Linked DNA regions of Homo sapiens. Changing the gene in region 7 together with the main gene of any one other region gives a genetic interaction. Each region holds a gene or a part of one and is shown on either strand. Other genes may lie near its edges.

Region 1 (3,500 bases), on a different chromosome or scaffold from region 7:
TTAAGAGCCTACTTTACAGACCTCTATGCAGATAAATGTGAAAATCTACATGAAATGAAATGGATTATTTCCTAGAAAAAAACAGCTTAACAAAATTGACACCCTTAGAGATAAACTGCTTAAACATACTATATTCATAGGAAAAAAAAAAAAAGAAAAAGTGTTATCAGGGAGCTTCCCCATTTTAAAAAAGAAAAGAACTAGCTCATATGATTTTGCAGGGAATTCTACAAATCGTTCAAAGAATAGGTAATCTAAATGATCCACAGTTCTCTGTATTTGTTTTGTCTTGTTTTTTTTGTTTTTTTTTTTTTCTCAGACAGGGTATTGCCCTGTCATCCAGGCTAGGATGCAGTGGCACAATTATAGCTCACTGCAGCCTCGAATTCATGAGTTCAAGTGATCCTCCTGCCTCAGCCTCCCAAGTAGCTAGGACTACAAGTATGCGCCACCATGGCCAGAGAATTTTTAAATTTCTTTTTTGTAGGGACATCGATCATTATATTCCCCAGGTGAGTCCTGGGGATCCTCCTGGATTCAAGGGCTCCTCCTGCCTTGGTCTCCCAAAGTGCTGGATTACAGCCATGAGCCACTGAGTCTAGCCTGATGCACATATTGTTCCAAAGCACTGAAAATACTGGAAAAACATCCGAAATCTTTTATTAAGCAACCATAATACTGACACCTAAAACCTGATCAAAAGACAACACTCACACAAATACAGGTCAATATCAAGCTGTGCTTCATGACCTATATCCTCTTAAGTGATTCTGATGTCACAATTGGCTTATCTGGCCAGATATGGTGGCTCACATGTGTAATTCCAGCACTTTGGGAGGCTGATGCGGGAGGCTTGCTTGAGTTCAGGAGTTCAAGACCTGCTTGAGCAACATAGCAAGACCTTGTCTCTAAAAAATATTAAAAAATTAGACAGGGATAGTGTCACACCCCTGCAATCCCAGCTACTCAGGAGGCTAAGGCAGCAGGATCCCTTGAGCCCATGAGTTTGAGGTTATAGTGAGCTATGATCATGCTACTGCACTCCAGCCTGGGTGACAGAGCTAGATCCTCTCTCAAAAAAAAAAAGAAAGAAAAAGAAAAATAGCATTATTATATATCATGAGTCTGAATGTCTAGTTGAGCCTAAGACCCCTAGTGAGTACTACACTGCTTATAATTATTATTATAAAAGTGAATAAAGGCATGAAATATAAAATCATGTTTTAGAACATGCATACTACTGTATTCTTTGATCTTTATAGTACTGACATCTTAAAGTATATGCCTTTGCTATTTTATTAATCTCTTATAAAAATAAATTCAATATTTACTGAATTTACTGAATTGCCAGTATTTACTGAATTCCAAGAAATTCAATATTTACAACATAGAAAGACAAAAGTATATGTTCTCAAACTTTTGAAAATCAGATCTTTTCACAATCGAATGTAGAGGTTGGCAAGCTTTTTCTCTGAAGTCATTAGCAAATATTTTAGATTTTAGAGGCCATACAATCTCCGTTTCAACTATATACAACTCTGCTGTGGTAGCTGGAAATCAGCCACAGATAAAACATAAACAAATGAGTATGGCTGTGTGTCAGTAAAGCTTTATTTAAGGACACTGACATTTGAATTTCTTTTTTGTTTGTTTGTAGAGGCGGTGCCTTGCTATGTTGTGTAGGCTGGTCTCAAACTCGTAGCCTGAAGCAATCTTCCTGCCTTGGCTCCCAAAGCACTGGGATTATAGGCAGGAGCCACCACACCTGGCCTGAAATTTGAATTTCATGTAATTTTCACAAGTCACAAAATATTCTTTTCAATAATTTGAAAATGTGAAAACCATTCTTAGTTCAAAAGCCTTATAAAAACAGACAATGGACCAAATTTGGTCTTTGGGCTGTAGTTTGTCAACTCCTAATTTAATGAAAGGCAGAGACCCCATCCATATATGACAAACATATGTACGTGTATGCACAAATTTGCATCCAGTTTCTGGAAGTTGGGTCTATTTGCTCTCTAACGTCCTTGTTAACTTTAAAACTCTATGATCATTTTCAAACTCATTCTAATTAGAGGTCCTTTTTGGAATACTCCAATTACCTGAACTCATCACTCTAAGACAGGTTTTACAAAAACCTCTCCCCCACATACTGTGAGTTCTTACCTTCTTTTTGCTCTTTTTCTTTTGAAGAAATTTCAGGTCATTAGCGGAGTTAGCATATTCTATCTTTTAATTTCTACACTACTTCAAAGGTCTTCTAACTGTTCCATTTTCTACAAAGCATCCCACACAATGTGCTCATATCAGTCTTTCTAACACAAAGAGTGCTCAAAAGCCAACTGCCTGCTGTTTTTTATTTAATTTTTTTCAGTGACAGGTCTTGTTCTGTAGCCCATGCTGGAGTGCCCAGGCAAAACTCAATGCAGCCTCAAACTCCTGGGCTTAAACAATCCTCCAGTTTCAGCTTCCTGAGTAGCTGGGACTACAGGTGTGTGCCAGCATGCTCAACTACTTTTTAAATTGTTTGTAGAGATGGGAGTCTCGTTATGTTTCCCAGGCTGGTCTTGAACTCCTGGCCTCAAGTAATCCTTCTGTCACAGCCTCCCAAAGTGTTGGGATTCTGGGTATGAGCCACTGTGCCAGGCCTGTTTTTTTTTTTCTTAATTAATTTTTTTGTCCATTTTAAAAAATAATTTTTCAAAAAAGGTTAAATAAAACCTTAGCCTGGCTTTCAAGATGCTCTATTGTATGGCTACTGATATGGTTTGACTCTGTGTCCCCACCCAAATCTCATCTTGTAGCTCCCGTAATTCCCATGTGTTGTGGGAGGGGCCTGGTGGGAGATAATTGAATCATGGGGGTGGGTCTTTCCTGTGCTGTTCTCATGACGGTGAATAAGTCTCATGAGATCTGATGGTTTTATTTTTATTTTTTGGGGGATGGAGTATTACTCTGTCACCCAGGCAGCCTGGAGTGCAGTGGCACAGTCTTGGCTCACTGCAACCTCAGCCTCCCAGGTTCAAGTGATTCTCCTGCCTCAGCTTCCCAGGTAGCTGGGATTACAAGCACACGCCACCACTCCTGGCTAATTTCTGTATTTTTAGTAGAGATGGTATTTCACCACGTTGGGCAGGATGGTCTCGAACTCCTGAACTCAAGTGATCCACCCGCCTTGGCCTCCCAAAGTGCTAGGATTACAGGCATGAGCCACTACGCCTGGCTGAGATCTGATGGTTTTAAAAATGGGAGTTTCCCCGCACAAGCTCTCTCTCTTTGCCTGCTGCCATCCACGTGAGACATGACTTGCTCCTCCTTGCCTTCCGCCATGATTGTCCCCAGCTACGTGGAACTATAAGTCCATTAAACCTCTTTCTTTGGTAAATTGCCCAGTCTTGGGTATGACTTTATCAGCAGCATGAAAATGGACTAATACAGCTACTATTCCTCTGTACCACCTTACGGACTCTTACCAAGTGAAATTTGTTCACTGTTAAAAG
Region 2 (4,147 bases), on a different chromosome or scaffold from region 7:
ATACCAACGTATTTAGAATAAAAGAATCATCCACAGGGACAGATTAATGATGCATCTTTCTGGCCTAACAGTGTCTTTTTGATGGGCATAGAGATAAGGGGACTATGGCCACACCATCAGAATTGTATTATTCAATTAATAATGCCTACCACTTTGAAATGCTTCCTGTGCCCCAGGACACTGTGCTCATCACTTTACATCTCATTTCATCTATAAGACTCTATATAACGTCATTTCCACTTTACAGCTGAAGAAACTTAACTTTAAGTTACATAACCTGCTGACTGTGAACTATCACATGTGCTGAAGTTGGGATTCACCAAGCGGCCAAAAAGCACAGGTTCCCCTTACCATTGCTATGTTAACCAATAGACTGATGTATTTTAAATCAGTTTCTATTTTTTCAACCTCATAAGTTTGAAAAGCTGCACTCTGCACTGATTTAGCACTGACTGGTGGCTGCTTAAAGCTTGCCTTATTCCATTTTAGCAGGCCCCCCGGCAAAATACCCCAATTAGTGGTGTCATCCTCTCTATTCCAAGAATTTTCTCTTAAGACTCCCGCTCTGTGCGTTTGCTTGGGAATGCAGAGCCCTGTTCCTCATCTCCCCATCTATGCTTTCTTCATTCTAAGCCCTTTCCTATCTACTTTATGCTCGAGGTGGCTCCACCTCCACCATGAGCCAGAGCCAATGATGCTCACGGCCCCAACCATGATTAAAAAGAGATTGCCCTGCAAGGTAAATCAGTTAAAACCAACCTCTCCTGCCCTGAGTGGATAGGTAGGGTTAGGGTTGCCAGATGTCACGAAGTTACAGGATGCTCAGTTTTAAGGTATATCCCTTATACTATAAGGGTTATAGTAAAAAATATTCATTATGTGAAATTCAAATATAACTGGGTATCAGGTATTCTATGTGGCAACCCTAGGTAGGGGAGCACAGGTTAGGCAAGCGATTAGAAGATTTGCAGCCTCCAAAGTTTCTGCACCTCGATGGGACACTAGAACAGGAAGGCTCCTGGGCCTTTCTGGCTCTGGGAATGAAGCGTGGAAAACCCTCCTTAGGCGGGCGCAGTGCTTCAAGTAGCCAAGCTCTGACTTCCGAGGGAAGAAAGGAGGCCATGGGCCTCTGCCAGAGCCATGCTCTGCACTCTGGGGTCAGCAGAGTTCAAAACGACCTGCAACGTCTGGCGCTTAGCTCCTAAAGAGGTCTCCAGTCCAGCGCCGACGGCCAGCGGCTAGAGGCCGTCCGCCCGACTCCAAGATGGCGCCCGCCACAGCTGCCAGGTGTTAAGATGGCGGCGCGGGGCCGCGCCCGCGCTCCCAGGCTCTCCTCCCCCAGCCTTCCTCCGGCTGGCAGCACGACTCGCGTAGCCGTGCGCCGATTGCCTCTCGGCCTGGGCAATGGTCCCGGCTGCCGGTCGACGACCGCCCCGCGTCATGCGGCTCCTCGGCTGGTGGCAAGTATTGCTGTGGGTGCTGGGACTTCCCGTCCGCGGCGTGGAGGGTGAGTGTGGGCCGGGGGCGGTGCATGAGATGATGGGGCGAGCTGAGGTCCACCCGGGCGACGCTCTGGACCTGCGCGAAGGCCGGCGGTGCGCGACTCGCCCCTTCTTGGCGTCTCCCCGGGCGCGTCTCCCCGACTTCTCTCCCCGCGCACCGCCCGCTGGTGGCCCGCGAAAGGGGGCCGGTGGGCTGAGGGCCGGTGGACGGGAGCCCGGGGGTGGTTGGGCCGCGTTCAGGCCGCCCTCAGCCCGTGGCTGGTAGCCAGGAGGGACAGTGCGGTAAGCGCTGCTGAGGCATACCCTCTGGTGATAAGCAATTTATTATTAATAACATTATATCAAATACCGACATTGTTGTGGCCGTATTAGGAGCCAGGAACTGTGCATCGTGCTTTATTTACATCATTATCCCATTTAATGCTCCCACAAACCCTGTCAGATCGGTTCCGTTTAGTGTCTCCATTTCACAGATGAAGATGCTCAGGCCCCGCCTAAGTTTGCGCTTCTGATACGTGGCAGAAGCCTGTCTCTCTGACGCCAAAGCCCAGTCTGGAGTCCACGCTGCTGGACCACTGTCTTAAGGAGGCCAGTCTTGCTCAGCTCCCTGCATGAAAAACAGACGAGAAACACGGGAGACTCCCGGTAACCCCCAACTTGCCGGTAGGGAAGGCAGCCACTCTAGAGGCATGGCGAGGGTGGAGAGTGGAGGCCTTACTTTCATGCTCCTTCACCCCACTCCTCATAGTCCTGTTAAAGTCCAGACCCTCGGTCTCGCTTGTCATTTAGACCTTAACAGGAATAGGCAGGTCTTTCTTTTCCCTGGGGTGTCCTGGATGGAGGCAGGACAGCAGAGAGTTGTGGAGAAGGGTGAGTCATAGTAACACAATTACCATGAATGAAAGCGCTCACTGTGTACCAGATGCTGTGCTCAGTGCTTTACGAGCATCATCTTTTGGAATCTTTACTGTTTTGTTTTTGTTTTTTTAAGGGATGAGGGCTTGCTCTGTTGCCCAGGCGGGAGTGCAGTGGCCCATCATGGCTCCCTGCAGCCTTGAACTCCTGGGCTTAAGTGATCCTCCCACCTGTTTCCCAAAGTGCTGGGATTACAGATGTGAGCCACTGCTCCCGGTTTATGTAATTTTTATTTTTATTTTTTTTTGAGATGGAGTCTCGCTCTGTTGCCCAGGCTGGAGTGCAGTGGCGCGATCTTGGCTCACTGCAACCTCTGACTCCCGGGTTCAAGCGATTCTCGTGCCTCAGCCTCCTGAGTAGCTGGGATTACAGGTGCCTGCCACCACACTGGGCTAATTTTTGTATTTTTAGTAGAGATGATGGTCCACCATGTTGGCCACGCTGGTCTGGAACTCCTGACCTCAGGTGATCCACCCACCTCGGCCTCCCAGAGTGCTGGGATTACAGGCTTGAGCCACCGTGCCTGGCCTTAGTAATTTTTAAATGCATATGCAGTAGATGTTATCATGCTCATTTTATAGAAGTAACTTAAGACTCAGAGCCAATAAGTCCTTTGACAAGGTCATACAGCCAGAAGTTGAGGAGCCTTGATTCAAGCCCATGTCTGCCTGACTTCAGAGCCCAACCTCTGCATTTTCACTATACTTAACTGCTAGCCTCACAGAGGGGATGGCATGGGTTGGATATCTTCTGTTTCAGCCCCTCCACCGTGCTCTGTGCCCTGTGTGGCTGTCCTGTGTGGAATAAATACCAGCTGTCCTACCGTCTTGCTTCCATTGTGTTGGAATGAGGGGAGAGTGAGGTCAGGGTATTGATTCTCTCCGCTCCCTCCCTGAGAAGTTATTGAAGGCTGGCTTTGCCCCCGGTGGAAAGCATTGAATTCTAGAAAGCTGCCCTCTGTGTTACCCTTGATGTTTCAAGGTTCTGTGACTACTTCTCTCTCCAGACTCTTAAGGTCTATGAGTGGTAACTGGCTCCTCCTCTACTGTTACTGGCCTTGGAATTCCTTACCATTGCTTTTCATTTCTCTGCACCCAGCCTACACATTAGTGGTCCCTTCATTAAACTCTCCTCAACTTGCCCAAGTTAAATGTGCTGTTTCCTGGCAGAACCCTGGCTGATTCAGGGTTCAGCTTGGGTCTTTGGTCATCATGGCCAGGCCATGAATGGGGTGAAGACAGAAGAAACTTCACCAGCTGATTTCTTCTCAGAGTAGCTGAAAATCTGAGGTGTTTTTTTTTTTTTTTTTTCTGCAGAGGATGCCACTGGCAGATTATGCTGGCCTCAGGTGCTGAGGCCCTGAGAGACTAAGCAACCTGGAGGTAGCAATGCTATCCAGGTGTCTAGGAATGGAAGCAAACTCCTGGCTTCAATACCCCTATGCCACTCTTCCCTAGGCAGTCAGCTAGCAAATTCTTACTGAGCACTCATCATATGCTAAACACTGTGCTGAGCACTGGGGATCCAGTGGTGAGTTAGAGCAGCAGGCCTTTGGGGAAGGCAGCCACTAAATAACTACAAATTACTAAGAAAATTGCAAGACTGAGAAATGCATCAAGGAGAGTCCCAGGGCGTTTTTGGGAACTGTAATGGGAGACCTCCCACCCTGGTCTGAGGGTCAGGGAATGTGTCCTTACAGAGGTGACATTTAGGGTGAGATCTGAATGAGG
Region 3 (2,982 bases), on a different chromosome or scaffold from region 7:
AGGGGATCCTGGTGCCTCTATTGAAGACTTTGCCCTGCCACTTCCACAGCAGTAAGCCGAAAGGATGAAGAGTTAGACCCCATGGACCCTAGCTCATACTCAGACGCCCCCCGGTAAGTGACAACCCCTCTTGACTCAGTACGTGGACACCATCCTCCGGCCTCCTTCCTCCATTCCTCATTGGGACCAGGTGGGCTGTGTCCGCCACATCACCCATCCCCATCCCCTGACTCTTTCACCGGCAGGGGCACGTGGTCAACAGGACTCCCCAAGCGGAATGAGGCCAAGACTGGCGCTGACACCACAGCAGCTGGGCCCCTCTTCCAGCAGCGGCCGTATCCATCCCCAGGGGCTGTGCTCCGGGCCAATGCAGAGGCCTCCCGAACCAAGCAGCAGGATTGAAGCTTCGGCCTCCCTGGCCCTGGGTTAAAATAAAAGCTTTCTGGTGATCCTGCCCACCATACCTGAGTGCTTCCTTTGAGGCTGCCCAACCCAAGTCGGCAAGATACACAACACATTTTATTTGCAAAAACTCAGCTAAGAGATAGTGTGGAGCTGGCAGGGGCTGGGGGGCTGAGCTGAGGTGGGTCATGAGAGAGCTTAGTCATGTTGGCCCTGGGTGGGGCAGGGGTGGTGGGGACAGGGAGTCCAGTGTCTACCTCACTCTACCCCTAATACTGATCAGAGTTTGGTCCCAGCTGGGCCAAGGGCAAGAAGAGAGAACGAGGCCAGGCCAATGTCTTCAATCCCAGCGGCTAGGAACCCTTCACCTTGGTGAGCAACCTGTGGTGGGAATGGGGAGGAAAGAAAAACACAAAGCTGGGCTAGGCTGGCAGGCGGGTTTCCTGAGCAAGTGAGGGCGGCGGTGGTGAGGCTGGTAGTCCTGGGGTTAGTAATGGTGCCCACCTGGTCAGAAAGCTACACGTGGACTAAATAAATACAACATCTTTATTTGGCATTGGATATCCTGACATTTGTTCATTACAGTTCCTTAAAAAACAAACCAAAAAATCAGAACAAATTAATCAAAAATAAAGATCCAATGGCTCTATTTACATATAGCAAAGACAGCCCAGGCATCTTCCATGCACACACACACCCCGCCCCGATACAGTTAAGGGGTTAATAAGCTTTGGGGAGCGCAGGAGGCAGGTTCCACAGTTCATCAATCCCAAGACACCCCCATGAGGTAGGGGTGCCTCACACAGCCAGACGGATATCAAGAGTATGATTGGTAGCTTTTTCCTCTCCTAGACATCTCCAAAAATAAGCCTACATCTGGCAACTGACAGTGTCTTAAATACAATGAGATTCAGCCACTTCAAGGACCTCCATTTTTCCCACACCCTGGATCATTAATGATATGATTACACCACAAATCCCAAGTCCACTAAAAAAAACAAATGGCCCCTACCACACCTTCTGCCAGAAGGGCTGATGCAAAAATCTTAGCTCTTGTCCCTTTCTCCCTGGGGACTCACAAGAAGCCCATCTTCAAGGTATCAAGGAAGCTGGCCCAAGGCCACACAAAAGACGGAACTAGTAACATGATCCAGAGCGGTGGTAAGGGAGGAGAGAAGGCCTCAAACTATGGGCAACTGAACCCCACAGGTAGGCATCGGTCATTCCTGAAGAGCTGCGGGAGTTTTGTCCAGTGTGTCCTTATGGAGGTGGAGGGACTGCTGGGAGGGACTCTCCCAGACGAGAAACCTCCAGAAGAGGGCACAGGGTCGGGGAGGGAGCAGACAAAAAAAAGGCCTTGAATGACAATACCCCCAACCCTGCCTCCAAAGAGGTTAGAGGGAGCAGAGGCGGCAGCTCTAAAACCCCCTCCAGGGGAAGGGGGTCACCCTACCAGGAAGGGTTCACGTGACACCCAGCTCTAGTCCCACACCCCTCCAGAAGTCTCAGTGACCTGGGAGAAAAGACCATCTCCCAAACCCAGAGGAGCCAGGCCCCGGAGGGTGGCGACTTGGGTCCTGCAGATGCCCAACACCCTCCACCCCAGTCCCCCTCCCTTGTGTCCCCCCATTGCTGCCAGCCCTCACTTCACCAGCACTGACTTTGGCAGAAAGGGCTCCGTGATGAGGTCTCCACGGTGGGAAGACAGCTGCGGTGGTGGTGGCTGCCCGGGAGGCTGCTGGTGAACGCAGGGCCCGGAGGCGGAGGCAGAGGCAGAGGCTATGGCTTTGGCTGCACCTCGGGGAAGGCTGTAGAGGTAGACAGCACCAATGACGAGTCCAGCGCCAAGGGCAAATAATGGGTCCACGTGGAAGCCAAAGAGGCGAATGGAGGCAACAGTGGACAGCACAATGGACAGGGAGGTGGCAAAGCCCTTGAGGATATTGTCAGCGTACTTGACAACCACAGCCACCAGTAGCCCGCCGAAGGCCTGGTTGAGCACCACGCCCCAGACAGCAGGTGTGTACCCAAAAAAGAAACCACGGGTGGCCACGGCGGTACCCTCAGCCCACCAGAGCCCCACCAGGCCCAGTGCTGTGCCGAAGAGGCCCAGTTGCAGGTTGCGCAGCCACACGGAGCCTGAGCTGCCTTTGAGGATCTTCTCAAAGTAGACACCTGCGAAGCCGGAGGAGAGACAGGAGGCCACGACGGCTGCCAGGCCTGCCCCAGGGTTCTGATCCAGTGGCCGTGGGCCTCCCCCACCGGCTTGCTGTGCCTGGACAATGGCGACGCCAGTGAAGAGGAGCAGCAGGGAGGCCCACTGCAGCCGGGAAAGGCTGCGATTCAGCATGAGCACGGAGAACAGCGCTGTGGTCAGGATCTTCAGCTGGTATGTCACCTGCGAGTGGCACGTGGAAGGCACTGAGGGCTGACCCTGGCCCCCAACAGGTGCACATGGGGGGCAGCACCCACTGTGGGCCCCCAGGCACAATGGAGGGACAGGGTGGGGGGTATGACAGCAAAAACAGCAAAAGGAGCCAGCCACTGGCCATTGGCTGAGCTGCAGCAAAACAGTTCTGA
Region 4 (2,549 bases), on a different chromosome or scaffold from region 7:
CCTGTAATCCCAGCACTTTGGGAGGCTGAGGTGGGCAGATCACCTGAGGTCAGGAGTTCAAGACCAGCCTGGCCAACATGATGAAACCCCATCTCTACTAAAAATACAAAAATTAGCTGGGCATGATGGTGGATGCCTATAATCCCAGCTACTCGGGAGACTGAGGCAAGAGAATCACTTGAACTTGGGAGGCGGAGGTTGCAGTGAGCAGAGATCATGCCACTGCACTCCAGCCTGGATGACAGAGCAAGACTCCGTCTCAAAAAAAAAAAAAAAAAAAAAGGATGTAAAAATGACCAATTAGTAAGAACTATGAGGAATGAACAGACTTGAAAAAAGGAAATTTTTTTAGATATGAAAAGCCAGTTTTAGAAAGTCAACAGATTAACAAGAATTATACAATGAATTAGAATTTATAACTGAAGAAAGGACTCAGAATGTAGCACAGACAGAAGATGGAAAATTTTGAGATAGTAGGAGATACAGAAATCTAATTAATGTATCTAGGCACTGAAATTGATGGCTACTAACATCACAAAGAGAGCCAAGAAGACATTATGTGCTTCCTGATGGAAATACATACCACTACCTCTCAAATATCCCTGTAGAAAAAAAAAAACTAATTTAAATCTGACCAAGCCTTTCCATCTAATTACACACTTATGAGAAATACACCAGACAGAGGAAGTTTGGCCACACCATGGAATGCAGTCAGCAAAATCTAAACTGTACATCATTCTAGATGACAAATGACTCAATAACTCAGTTTCTTCCAAAAATAAATTGCAGAGGAGATGGAAGGGAAATCTATAGACTAAAAAAAGACACATATATGGACTTTATATGGATCCTGATTTGAACCATAAAAATCATTTATGAAGGCCAGGCACAGTGGCTCATGCCTGTAATCCCAGCATTTTGGGAGGCTGAGGCGGGTAGATCACCTGAGGTCAGGAGTTTGAGACCAGCCTGGCCAACATGGTGAAATCCTGTCTCTACTAAAAATACAAAAATTAGCTGGGCGTGGTGGTGGGTGTCTATAATCCCAGCTACTCAGGAGACTGAGGCAGGAGAATTGCTTGAACCCGGGAGGCAGATGTTGGAGTGTGCCAAGATCGGGCCATTGCACTCCAGCCTGGAGGCAACAAGAGTGAAACTGTGTCTCAAAAAAAAAAAAAAAAAAATCACTTATGAAATAACTGGGAAAATCTGAATAGTTATTTTAGATAAGATAATTTTTTTAAGTGTGATAATGTATTGTAGTTTTTAAAACCATCTGTTACCAGGTGTGGTGGCACACACCTGTAGTCCCAGTTACTTAGGAGGCTGAGGTGGGAGGATCACTTGAGCCCAGGAGTTCGAGGCTGCAGGGAGTTATATCATGCTACTACACTCCAGCCTGGGCACTACAGCAAGGCCCTATCTCAAAAATAATTTTCTTAATAAAAATAACATTCTGATACAGATGAAGTGATAATATTCATCTGTATATGTATAAGATTTAATTCAAAGTAACTGGGGGACACAGAAGGAGGATAAGCAATAGGTGTTGGTATAGATGAAACAAAACTGTCCGTGAACTGCTATACACCGAATATCACTGATGATGCCTGGGGGTTCACTATGCTTTTCTAATAGCATAGTGAAATTTCCCATAATAAAATGTTAATTTTTGTTTAATGTAAAAGGGAGATTCAAACAAAAAAACTCATAAAAGCAAACAACCCAGACAGAAAGATCTGGTAAGAAGAAAGTGAAATTATTATTCCATTTAAAAATAAATTATTAATACTAAAATTAGCCAGGTGTGGTGGTGCATGCCTGTAACCCCAGCTACTCAGGGAGACTGAAGCAGAAGAATCACTTGAACCGGGAGGCAGAGGTTGTAGTGAGCCAAGATCATGTCACTGCACTCCAGCCTGGGCGACAGAGCAGCAACTTGTCTCAGTAAATAAATAAATAAATAAATAAATAAAAATTGTATCTTTTCTATTCTTCCCTCAAAATATTCACTTATATCCACTGAGGGTGTCAAATAACTAATATGCTGCAAGGAAGGATCTTTCTATAATCAAGGCATCTTTGTGATGTGATTTTGGACAGAGATTAAATAACCAAATTCAACCTATTACAGTTGCCTAAATGCAGTCTCACACACACATATACAAACAATAATGTAGCAGTGTACGGTGGGGCACAGGGAGTAGACTTGCCAAAGAAAAGTTGAACTAACAGTGATGACCCCTGCTAGGCAGGAGCCATAAATTATATAATGTGTTGTAAGCATGATATATACACCTGATTTTGAAGACTTCATCTTAGAATAAATTTTAAGTATATCTTTTTTTTCTTTTTTTTTTTCGGAAACAGGGTCTTGCTCCATCACCCACGCTGGAGTGCAGTGGCACAATCACAGCTCACTACAACCTCAACTTTCCTGGCTCAGTGATTATCCCACCTCAGCCTCCTGAGTAGCTGGGACTAACAGGCATGTGCCAACATGTCCCACTCATTTTTTTTTTATTTTTTGTAGAGATGGGGTTTCACCA
Region 5 (3,500 bases), on a different chromosome or scaffold from region 7:
TATTTTTTAAATAATCTGTTGGCTTGTTTACTCATAAATTCACAAAGATTATTTGGTAAACCAAGAAAATCAATTAAGTTTATCATACTGTATACTTGGCCATTTTTTCAAATAGAAAAATAGTATTATTAAATTTAGTTTCATGAATCAGTTTGCACATTATCCAATATAGGCAAAGATATTTAATATCATGCTAACTTCAATTGAAAATGATTCCTTAGTTTCTACTATTTGTCTAACCCTCAAGACTCTTGATTAACAGCCTCAGAATATTAACTTGAACATTTAATATTTGAGTAGTTGAATGGCCTTATATACCATACATCCACAATTTCTCAAAGAATGTGCACTGGCACACTAATGTGCAACAGTGGTTTATAGATGGGTGGAAATATTGATTGACTCAGCCCTCAGGAATGACAGAGCCTATAGCCAGTTAACAGCTGCCTCATCCATTTACAGTCCTAGAAAAACGAAATTTTCTGTGTGACATAACTTGAAAAAGGCTGAAAGTACTTTTATACAGCCATAAAATAAACTATACCAATGAAGTGCTAATCACTCAGACAGTATAAGCAGGGTTAGAATGGCTATCACGACTATCATAAGTAACACCCTAACCACTAGGTTACACATGACCTAATTGCGGGCAATTTTGCTAAATCATCCTGTAACTATAGCACAGACATAAATTTAAACTAAAATCTGAGTCTAGAAATACTAATATATGCTAACCATGACAGCTTCAAAGTTAAGGACTATTGCTTGGTATTTTCTTTTACACCAGAGACTATCTTGGCAACTATGAGATTAGATGTTCAATCTCAAAAAAAAAAAAAAAAAAAAAAAAAAAAAAAGGTTTTTGTTCACCTCTGAATATTTTATTTCTCCCTTTGAGCTGACTTACTTCAAATAAATTTCAATGACTTACTGAAGGAGACATAGCCTAAGAATTCAATTTTCTCTTAGAAAAAATGAGAAACTAATCCATATCAACAATTTCCAAATTTCAGTATCATTTTATTTACTCCTCTTAATAGAGAAATGGTTAAAGTCTAAAAGTTGCAAAGGAAAAATATTAAGTGCACTTTGCCAGCTTTTATAGCCACCCCCACAAAAAAGAAAATAAAAATAAACAAATTACCTATTGGACTGGTTTTCCTGCACAAATGGGTAACAAGTAATCAGGTAGCTGGGAATTGGAGTTGGTTCCACACCAGAAACACTTCCATTATCATTTGGGAGAGCCATAGGGATCATAAATGTATCAGGACTCTTCTTCTGGGGAATAAATGGCTCCACCTCAGCTGACAGCTTGACATTCTTCAAAGAGAAAGTAGAATACATTAATAACAAATGAGCAAGCAACTTCCTACAAATTCAAAATTTAACAACAGAAGAGTCAGTCCTTATAAACAGTAATTAGGTCTCTTCTCAGCATTCATAAAACATCCAAAAGGAAGAGCAATGTCAATTTTAAAATAACTGAATAATGATCAAGTTATTTAGACAAAGCCATCAAATAAGGAAAATAAACCAAATGTTACATTTCAATGTAATTAAAGCTGTTAAAACAATCAAGAGAACACAGAAGTTATACCTCAGGTTCTAAAAATAAAGTTGGTAGTAAGAGATGTAGCTCTTCAGACAAAACAATGTGTTTTTAACTCATTTTGTTGGGGGAAAAATTGAACAAAATTATGAAGGATAATTATTACTCTATATTTGTTTGAATAGTCTTAAAAGTTGTCTATTTCTGTCCATTTCTGGAAATTAGATCAGTATCATTAAAAGAAAAAATGTCTAAGATGAAAAAATACTTAACATTAACAAGAAAAAATCTGCACAGTTAAACTGGGGAAAATATGAGTACTTCAGTTTCCCAGTACACATGTGAGTAAACTAAAGTAATCCAAGATATGTAATCCATTTTAGTTTACTTTGTATCTTTTCTTACAAGAAATCTATAGAGATTTAAAAGACATAAAAAAAAAAAAAACCCTGTAGTATTTAGGGATGCACATATGGGCAACAAAACTATAAAGAAAAGTAAATAAAATCCATAAAAGTCAGGATAGGAATTATTCTTAGCAAAGAGAGTTGTGATTAAGAGGAATCTGGAGAGCTTCCAGGGTGCCTGGCAAAGTTCTATATCCTAACCAGGATAAAATTTACAAGGTGTTTGTCCTGTAACAATTCATCAAGCTGTACATTGGTTTTATGCAGTTTCTATATGTTATAGTTAACAACAAATTTAACATTTTAAATTATTTTTTGAAATCATTAAGTACATTCTGTAAAAAATCATATAAATATTATAATATCAAATGATATGAAACATGTTTTAATGAAACCAGTAAGTGAAATGCAAGCTAATGTTTTTAACTACTGTAAAAAATTACCTTAAAAGCCATGGTCCTAGCCAGAACTTTTTCCCAACAAACCCACTAGGGTGATATTTATTAGAGGCTCCCACCAAAACATAGTTGTAAGAATAAATTTCATGTTTCTCACAAAAGCAGCTAGTAAGGAATCCAAGTAAAAAATCTGAAGATGAGATATGCTCATTTGTTTCAGAAAAATTAACTTCTCTAAAAAGTTCACTGTAAATATTTATAAATGCTTGTTAAAAGGGAAGGGGTGGGGATGGTAAAATCTGAACTGTCCAGCAGTATTAATTCAGTATCCTTCCTCCCTACCTGATTTGAGGTTTACATTTGTACTATTAACCAAATCAGAAGTAGATATACTATAATAATAATACAAATATTAGTGAACTGAAGTTGGTTTCTTAAAGATTAACATAAGAGGCAAAAATATCTTCAAACTCTAATGATACAAGCTAGTAATTTTCACTCTGTGATATTCATTAGAACCCAAACTCACTTATATAGGACACAATATATCAAAACAATAAATATTTCCCCAATTAGGAAAAAGAAAAGCCGACGTACAGCAATAATGCAAAGATAATGGAAGCTTGCTTTATACAGTTCACACATACATGCATAAGAAAAGAAACTGAAATCACAGTTTAACTGCACTAAAAATGTAATTTTTAGGATTTCTTTTTTTTTTCTTTCTTTTTTTTTTTTTTAGACAGGGTCTCGCTCTGTCACGGGGTGGAGGTGGAGGTGGGGTGCAGTGGTGTCATCATGGCTCATTGCAGCCTCAATCTCCTGGACTCAAGTGATCCTCCCACCTCAGCCTCCCAAGTAGTCAGGACTACAGGTGCACATCACCATACCCAGCAAACTTTTTAATGTAGAGATGGGGTTTTGCCACGTTTCCCAGGCTGGTCTTGAACTCCTGGGCTCAAGTGATCCTCCCACCTCAGCCTCCCAAAGTGCTGGGATTATAGGCATGAGCCTGGCCAGGATTTCTTTTAAAAAACAAAAAGTTCTTTACGACATATGAGAACTCACTGAGCAGTTTTATAAATCTGAGCTAGTAGACATTCGGGGTTTTTTTCAGCAAGGTATATGGGTACATCAAATTAT
Region 6 (3,500 bases), about 22 Mb from region 7:
GGTCAGTTTGACCAGATTGCAGCTAAGAAACCAAAAACTTAGTTCACTCACATTGGTTTATTTGTGTAAAACCAGATCATCTGTTTTAAAGAATCGTGACTTTGTTTTTCTGAAAATGAAACAAACTCATTAATAAAATATTACAGCAGTACAGAAGATAGAAAGATGAAAATAACAACCCAACATCTTACCACCAGAAATAACCAGGGTAAACACTGAAGCATCTCTCCATGTCTGCACACACAGGGATGCCATTATATATTATGTAATTAGATGACTGGGTTCATACCATCTGTGTTACTTTTTAATAAATTACTAAGTTTTAACACAAGAAAAAGAAACAAGTGAAATTTTATCAGTGTTTTTTTTTTTTTTTTTTTTTTTTTTTTACTACACAAGAGTCACTTTTTTTTTTTTTATTATACTTTAAGTTTTAGGGTACATATGCACATTGTGAGGTTAGTTACATATGTATACATGTGCCATGCTGGTGTGCTGCACCCACTAACTTGTCATCTAGAAGAGTCACTCTTTAAGATTCCTCTGTAGTTAAAAAAAAAAAAAAATGGAGGTTGGTGATATCTCCAGGCACATTTCTGGTCTTATATAAAGTGATTTCACATTGCCCGAGGTCTTTCTTTTTGCCTTTCCTAAGGTTAAACATGCTTTCTTGGTCATGAAAGTCCTATCTGTGTTCCGGATATGGAAACTGGAGACTTAACTGAAAGAAAAGGACAATTGATAAATGAGTACATCACAGCTGTTCCAGATAAAGAAGGGGCAGAGACATTAAAGTTCTGGGTGTGTCTGTGTGATAGTAACAGCAGTTCTTGCATGATTTATGGTAGAGAGATATATTTGTATTGGTTCCAGTTCCATTGGTTTGTGAAATATTAATATGCCAACACAGCCTAGCATATTGGAGTCACTGGAAATGCATCAGTGCTAGCCTTACATGCCTTTCACTCTATGGTGTTAACCTGCCTTTTTCTAAGTCTAATCTCCACTTACCCCAGCTGTATCACACTTTTTCTTTCCAAAATTCCTAATCCTCTGTCTTCACTCCCCTCACTTTTAGCTAACAGCCTGGCCTTATGCTGTCACTTGGGACTCTGTCATATTTCCTGACAAATCTACACACCTGTGGGTATCTGAACCAGTCTTCCCTCCTGTAGACCAGTAAATGTTGCTCCAACTACCACAGGCCCTTTTTTTAAGGACTGAGTGCCTTTGCTTGTCCCTGCTACTTTGTCATCAGCCTGTCCCCTTTCTTGTGTTATTTGATTAGCAGTCATGTCCACTTTAAATTCCTCTTGCCTGTCACCTGACGTTTCCCTCTGCAACTCCCCATGTCTTTGCTCCTCTCAGTAGCTATCATCTCCACGTCTTCACTTACACTGGCAGCTCTGAGACCTGGCTTCTGCTACTGCCCTTCGCCTGGACTGTTTTTGTGGAGGTCTCCACTGACTGCTGAATCCAGTGGACCATCTTCAGAGCTCATCTTCTTGATGTCCCCATAGTTTTCAGCACAGGTGACCACTCTTTCCTTCTTTGGACTCTGCTACACTGCACGCCTGGATTTCCTTTTACATCTTTGAATGGCTCCATCTCGGTCTCCTCTGAAGGCTTTCTTTCAACACCTTGCTCTTCAAGGCTTTGTCTGTGCTTCTCTTTTCTTCTCATTACCTTCTTGAAGAATTGCCTTCTCCCACACCTGGAGCTCCACATCGTTTCATGACACCTGTATAGAGACAGCTCCCAGCTTCGTATCACCACCCTGGACCACTGCAGCTGCAGGTCTCACACCCAGTTGCCTACTCAGTATCCACAGTTGGAAGACTCCATGGCACCTCACAGTAAACACACATTCATAAGGGTCGCAGGGGCAAACCGTGCTGGTATCTAGATGGTTACAGAGAACAGTAAACAAAATAGCAAAGAGGCCAATGTGACAGGAGGAAAGGAGTGGGAAATCTGGTGGAAGATGAGGGCTGGGTCATGGGCCATCCGCACACAGGGACTTGTGAGCCGTGATGAGGACATTGGCACACAGAGGAAGCCCTGGCATGGTTTTGAGCAAAAAAGTGAAACAGCCTATCTGATACCCTAGCAAAATTACTTTTGCATGGTGTGAAAAAATACATTGAACAGCAGTAAGAACAGAAGCAGGGAGACCAGTTAGGAGATTGACGCAGGTGAAAGGTGATAGTGACTCTGACCATGTTGGGAGCCATGACCTGCGAAGTGTCTGGATTCTGGGTATCTTCTGAAGGGAGAGCACACTGGATCTAGCAGAAGTTCATATGCAGGGTGAGTGAGAAAGAGAAGACTCCAGGTAGAGCTCAGGGGGTTTGGTCAGAGTAAATAGGTAGAGTTGCTAATGAGTGAGAGGGACAGAACTGTGGAGAAATACCTTCTGGGGAAGGTCAGCAGTGGTTATGTTAAGCCCAAAGTGCCCATCAGACATGGAGTGCAGAGCAGCAGCTGGATATACAAGTCTGAAGTGTGAGGGAGAGTACTGAGCTAGAGATAAATGTTTGAGTCTTGGGGTATGGATATTATATGAAGCATTTCAGTGTGAAGAGGTCAGAAACTAGCAAAGACTAGTCTGAGAAAGAGTGGCCAGTGAGGAAGAGGCAGGCTGGAAGAGCCTAGAGTCCTGGAAACCAGGGAAGAAATTGCTTATGTAGGAGGTCAGCCTGTGACATGCCGCTGCTGACAGGCCAGACCAGATAACAGAACACTGATCCTTTGACTTCGTTATGTAGAGGTATTATGACTTGGTGAGTAGTTTCAGGGGAGTGTGGGGTAAAATGCCTGCTTGAAGGAGGTTCCAGACAGGTGGACACGGCCTAGATGACTGTTTTGAGGAGTTTTTCTCTGAAGAGGGACTAAGAAACAAGATGGTGGCTGGAGAAAGAAATTGGTCAAGAGAAGAATATTTCAGTTTAAGATTACTGAGATCAATTTCTGAATAACATCTGGCTAAGTATAAAACATCCTTTCTCCTACTGGTTGACAGTACTGTATCATATACCAGGTTCCCATTTGTACCTAGATCTGTTTTTAAACTGTCTCTTCCATTCCATTGGTATATTTGCTCATTCCTCAGACTCTTTTGATTTTGTCTGTTTTTATCACTGTTTTGGAATACAGGTTTATCACTAGTGTCTGTTTTTATCACTGTTTTGGAATATGGGTTTCTCCAAAATTATTGCTAGAATCTTAATTGGAACTGCATTAAATTTTCTGATGAATGTGGAGGGAAATGTCATCCATGAACATGAGCTCTCTATTTAAATCTCCCTTTGTGTCCTTTAATGGAATTCCTATAAAGCCCTTGTACCTTTATGGAACCTTTAAAGGGAATTTTCAGACATCCTATAGATTTTGTTGCTGTTATGAATGGGGTTGTCTTTTCTGTTATATTTTCTACTTGATTATTGCTGATTCATAAGAATATTATTATTTTCTCTAAACTGACCTTATATCCAGGAGTC
Region 7 (3,500 bases):
CTTTACAAAAACAGTAAAGGACATGGTCTTAAATTAGTCTTCTCCCAAAAAGTGAGACCTGAGGTGGGCATACAATGATAAACAGAATTTGTGCACATGGAGGCTTAATATGGCAGAACACCAAGAAAAGAGACCAGATGGAATGATTAGGGATTGTCTGATGCAGTAAAAAAAAAAACTGTCTGAGAGAAATGGAAGAAGTGAATGCCGGATAGTTTTGTTTTGCTCATTTCAGCACAGGAACAGGATACAAACGGCCAGAGCTCAACTGGAACTTGCAGTGGAATGGCACATCCATAAATCACTGGGCTGGTTCATAATATCACTACCACTATCATGCCTACATTATCTCATTTGGACTACTATGAAAATGAGTTTTGCTGCCTATAAAAATACTAAAGGATTAGAAACCAGAGACTGAGCCTATAGGGACTAGAGTCTTCTTCAGTGACATTCAGATTTTTTTTTTTCCTTCAAATGAAATCTTACCAATGACCCCAATACATAAACTGATAAAATCTGAACTGCTCTGGTTACAGGAGGTGCCCTGAAATTCTGCTTGAGGGCTTCTATATAATCACTGTGGTTGTAAAATTTGTCCAGGTGAGTAGAAACTACTCACTTGACAGAAAGGTTAGCACCCACCGAGACAGTGAACAGAAGAAGCAGAACTAGAATCCAGGAATGCTGACACTCAGAGAAGGGCTCTTCCTACTATATTCCATGTCGCTTCTAAAAACCAAATGAAGAAAATATGATTCATACTTACCATCTCTGTTCAGCCATTGCTTTCTTGTTCTGTACAAAAGGAGCTTGTTGTGGACATATGGTAAAAGGAACTTGACACACCAGCTCTCCACACCCAGTTTGTTTTCAACCAGGACTATGGGACTCCGGTTATACCTAGCTTCAGGACATGGGATCAGGCCAATTTCATCTCTTAATATGTAAAACATAAAAAAGAATTAAAAATAAGGATACTAACCTTTTCAACATTTTTCTAATTTCAGAGTATTTTAAAAACCCCACATATTTCCCCCTTCCTTACAAATATTATTTAGCTCACTTACTGGGATTGGTAGATGCTAATAGTGGCAAGAGTATGAGAAAACCAGTATGCTGTACTCTCTGTAGACAGGAGTGAAAACTGGTCTTGCCTTTGGATGGCAACTTAAAAAAAAGTCTTTCAAAATTTTGAAGGAACATACCCTTTGATCCAGCAATTCAACTGCTCAGAAATTATCCTATGCCAAAATATGTGAATCAGATGTTCACTGCAATGTTGCAACAAAACTAGAAACAATCTAAATGTTTATCAATATAAGACTAGTAAAAAAAAAAGGCCCATCCACATAATCAAGCCATTAAAAAACAATGAGGTAGATCTGCATATGCTGACATAAAAAAAGTTGCCAAGATATATGAAATGAAAACAAAAAGCAAAATGCTGAACACAGTGTACAGCACAAATCCTTTTGTATAATTTCTTTAGAAGATATATAGATGCATTAAAAATTTTCTTGGAAGGATAACAAGAAATTTTTGGAGAGAGAAAGGTGGTAAGGAAGGATTTTATTTTTATACAGTTTCAATTATCTAATAATTGTATGTATTTCTATTTTTTTAATGTCAACAAATGTGTTTATGCTTGCTTGCTAATAAATGCATGTGGACCAGAAACAAAGTATCAAAAAACGTTATTTTATCAGTGAGATTTTGGGCCATTTTTTCTTCTTTATATTTTCCTGAATTAAAAAACCACCCAAATAAATGTTAAAACACAAAATACATTTCAGAATTCAATAATTTTCCTCTGTGGTAGCATCTATATCCCTCAATCCACCTCAACTTAAGCTGAAAATTTACATTAAAGGCAGAGATTTAATAAACAATATGTAGGGCATTTGACTTACTTAGTAAATGAACCAGCAAACGTAAAAAATTTGTGCAAAACACATTCACATGCCTTTCAACTCTAAAGGAAGTTATAATTCTTGCCTACACAAAGGATCCTTTCTCAAACAGAATGTCCTCTGTTTAATTAATGAATAACAAGAAACTTTTTAACAATAAGAGTAGTTGAAATAAATGTTTTTAGAGTGTCTATATAGATATTTTAAACATGTCTTTAAAAAGCAGAATAATGAACTGGTTTTCAGAGTTTGTGTGTGACATTATGTATTATGTCCCTGGCATCCCCTTACCAAGAACACAGTGGTTTGATAGACCCAAAAGAGGGAAATTGGTTGAATTACAAAGTAGGAGAAACACCCTGTCTTTTTGTTGGGCCACTATCACAAATTGGTAGGAGGCTGTGGATTTAAAATAAAACCCCTCCTGGAAACTAAACTGAATAGCTTAGAGGTAATCTACTTTCTACTGATCACTTCATTAGTGGCACAGGGATTTATCAATAAAAAGGATATCTTAGGGGTTGCAAGACACTAACAATTCTTTCAAGCTAATTTAACTCTCAAGAAGACTGTGGGATCTATGGGTTTTTATCCTTACAATTGGTTCCGTTGACTCAAAGGTGTTTTGATATACTATATCAATACTATCATAAGTTTTCTGATTAACTACAATGTACTGGGTGCTTTCTTAGGTTCTAAAATTCAAAAAGAATAAAGCAAAGTGGTCTCAGACTTCAAAGAGCTAAAGTCTTGCTGGGGATCTGTGTCAATATCCATAATAAAATGTTACCACTTTACTACTCCAATAATATAAACAAAGTCCTGTAGGAAGAATAAGGACAAAGCTGAAAGAGCACCTGAGGTCAATGCCCAGTATTTCAAAATATATTTTGTGCATCTCTATTTGGTAGTATCCTGAAATCTATCTAATTCATTATTATGACCCCTAGCCATATCTAGCTATACTTGACTAATATATGACTGAATCTCTGGTATTTTCTGATGTTTGTGTTTTACTACATGAAGAATATTAAAAAATAAAGTAAAACTAAATAAGTAAATAAACTCAATGTGATTATTTCAGGAAATTCTGTTCTCTGAGATATAATAACCTACTTACAACACTTCAAAGAACTGCAAGAGTCAACAATATAACTGTTATAGTAACAAGAATAAAAGAATCCTGTTTCTGGGTATGGTTTGTTTTTGGGGGGGATTTTTTTTTTAAACTTAAATTCACAATATAAAAACCTGTCTTGCTCACTAATTAAACTAGGATTAAAATGCCCAGCTAATAATTTGGTATCTAAACTACAGAAAAGAGCCATCTGCACAATTAAAAAACACACTGCTTTGACTGTCTGTTCTTTCAAGAAATACTTTATAAAATAAGAATGGCTTGGATATAGCAGGTGCCCAATAGCTGCTTCCTGAAAGGCTGATTATCCTGGTACTTTAGTGATAATATTCAAATTAATAGTTTTCACTTCTTGTCCCTCTAAAAGAACATTATCTCTGATTTTCTCCTAATAAAGTATACTGAAAACAGCATGTGTCCAAGTCCTGGATGGAAATAGATATATACAC

The links.
Region 1: changes in PTAR1 (region 7) and TRAPPC13 are lethal when combined (synthetic lethality), as found in Homo sapiens cells (one study listed by BioGRID).
Region 2: changes in PTAR1 (region 7) and TXNDC15 are lethal when combined (synthetic lethality), as found in Homo sapiens cells (one study listed by BioGRID).
Region 3: changes in PTAR1 (region 7) and SLC35A2 are lethal when combined (synthetic lethality), as found in Homo sapiens cells (one study listed by BioGRID).
Region 4: changes in PTAR1 (region 7) and VPS52 are lethal when combined (synthetic lethality), as found in Homo sapiens cells (one study listed by BioGRID).
Region 5: changes in PTAR1 (region 7) and SECISBP2L are lethal when combined (synthetic lethality), as found in Homo sapiens cells (one study listed by BioGRID).
Region 6: changes in PTAR1 (region 7) and SPTLC1 are lethal when combined (synthetic lethality), as found in Homo sapiens cells (one study listed by BioGRID).

Annotation. Positions count from the first base shown.
Region 1 is NC_000005.10:65,638,527-65,642,026, reverse strand, and holds part of TRAPPC13 (trafficking protein particle complex subunit 13), read right to left. Parts: intron 1-3,500.
Region 2 is NC_000005.10:134,873,024-134,877,170, forward strand, and holds the start of TXNDC15 (thioredoxin domain-containing protein 15 isoform 1 precursor), read left to right. Parts: upstream 1-1,347; 5' UTR 1,348-1,404; coding exon 1,405-1,507; intron 1,508-1,807; exon of another isoform or gene 1,808-2,109; intron 2,110-2,220; exon of another isoform or gene 2,221-2,375; intron 2,376-4,147. UniProt on the Homo sapiens protein: Acts as a positive regulator of ciliary hedgehog signaling. Involved in ciliogenesis.
Region 3 is NC_000023.11:48,902,683-48,905,664, forward strand, and holds the end of SLC35A2 (UDP-galactose translocator), read right to left. Parts: intron 2,801-2,982; coding exon 2,064-2,800; coding exon of another isoform or gene 1,908-2,063; exon of another isoform or gene 784-1,907; coding exon 756-783; coding exon of another isoform or gene 682-755; 3' UTR 501-681; downstream 1-500. Other genes in the region: PQBP1 (polyglutamine-binding protein 1), read left to right, coding at 50-113, 246-402. UniProt on the Homo sapiens protein: Transports uridine diphosphate galactose (UDP-galactose) from the cytosol into the Golgi apparatus, functioning as an antiporter that exchanges UDP-galactose for UMP.
Region 4 is NC_000006.12:33,252,328-33,254,876, forward strand, and holds part of VPS52 (vacuolar protein sorting-associated protein 52 homolog), read right to left. Parts: exon of another isoform or gene 2,371-2,549; intron 1-2,370. UniProt on the Homo sapiens protein: Acts as a component of the GARP complex that is involved in retrograde transport from early and late endosomes to the trans-Golgi network (TGN).
Region 5 is NC_000015.10:49,036,447-49,039,946, forward strand, and holds part of SECISBP2L (selenocysteine insertion sequence-binding protein 2-like), read right to left. Parts: intron 1,324-3,500; coding exon 1,145-1,323; intron 1-1,144. UniProt on the Homo sapiens protein: Binds SECIS (Sec insertion sequence) elements present on selenocysteine (Sec) protein mRNAs, but does not promote Sec incorporation into selenoproteins in vitro.
Region 6 is NC_000009.12:92,042,414-92,045,913, reverse strand, and holds part of SPTLC1 (serine palmitoyltransferase 1), read left to right. Parts: intron 1-3,500. UniProt on the Homo sapiens protein: Component of the serine palmitoyltransferase multisubunit enzyme (SPT) that catalyzes the initial and rate-limiting step in sphingolipid biosynthesis by condensing L-serine and activated acyl-CoA (most commonly palmitoyl-CoA) to form long-chain bases.
Region 7 is NC_000009.12:69,750,012-69,753,511, forward strand, and holds part of PTAR1 (protein prenyltransferase alpha subunit repeat-containing protein 1), read right to left. Parts: intron 940-3,500; coding exon 770-939; intron 1-769.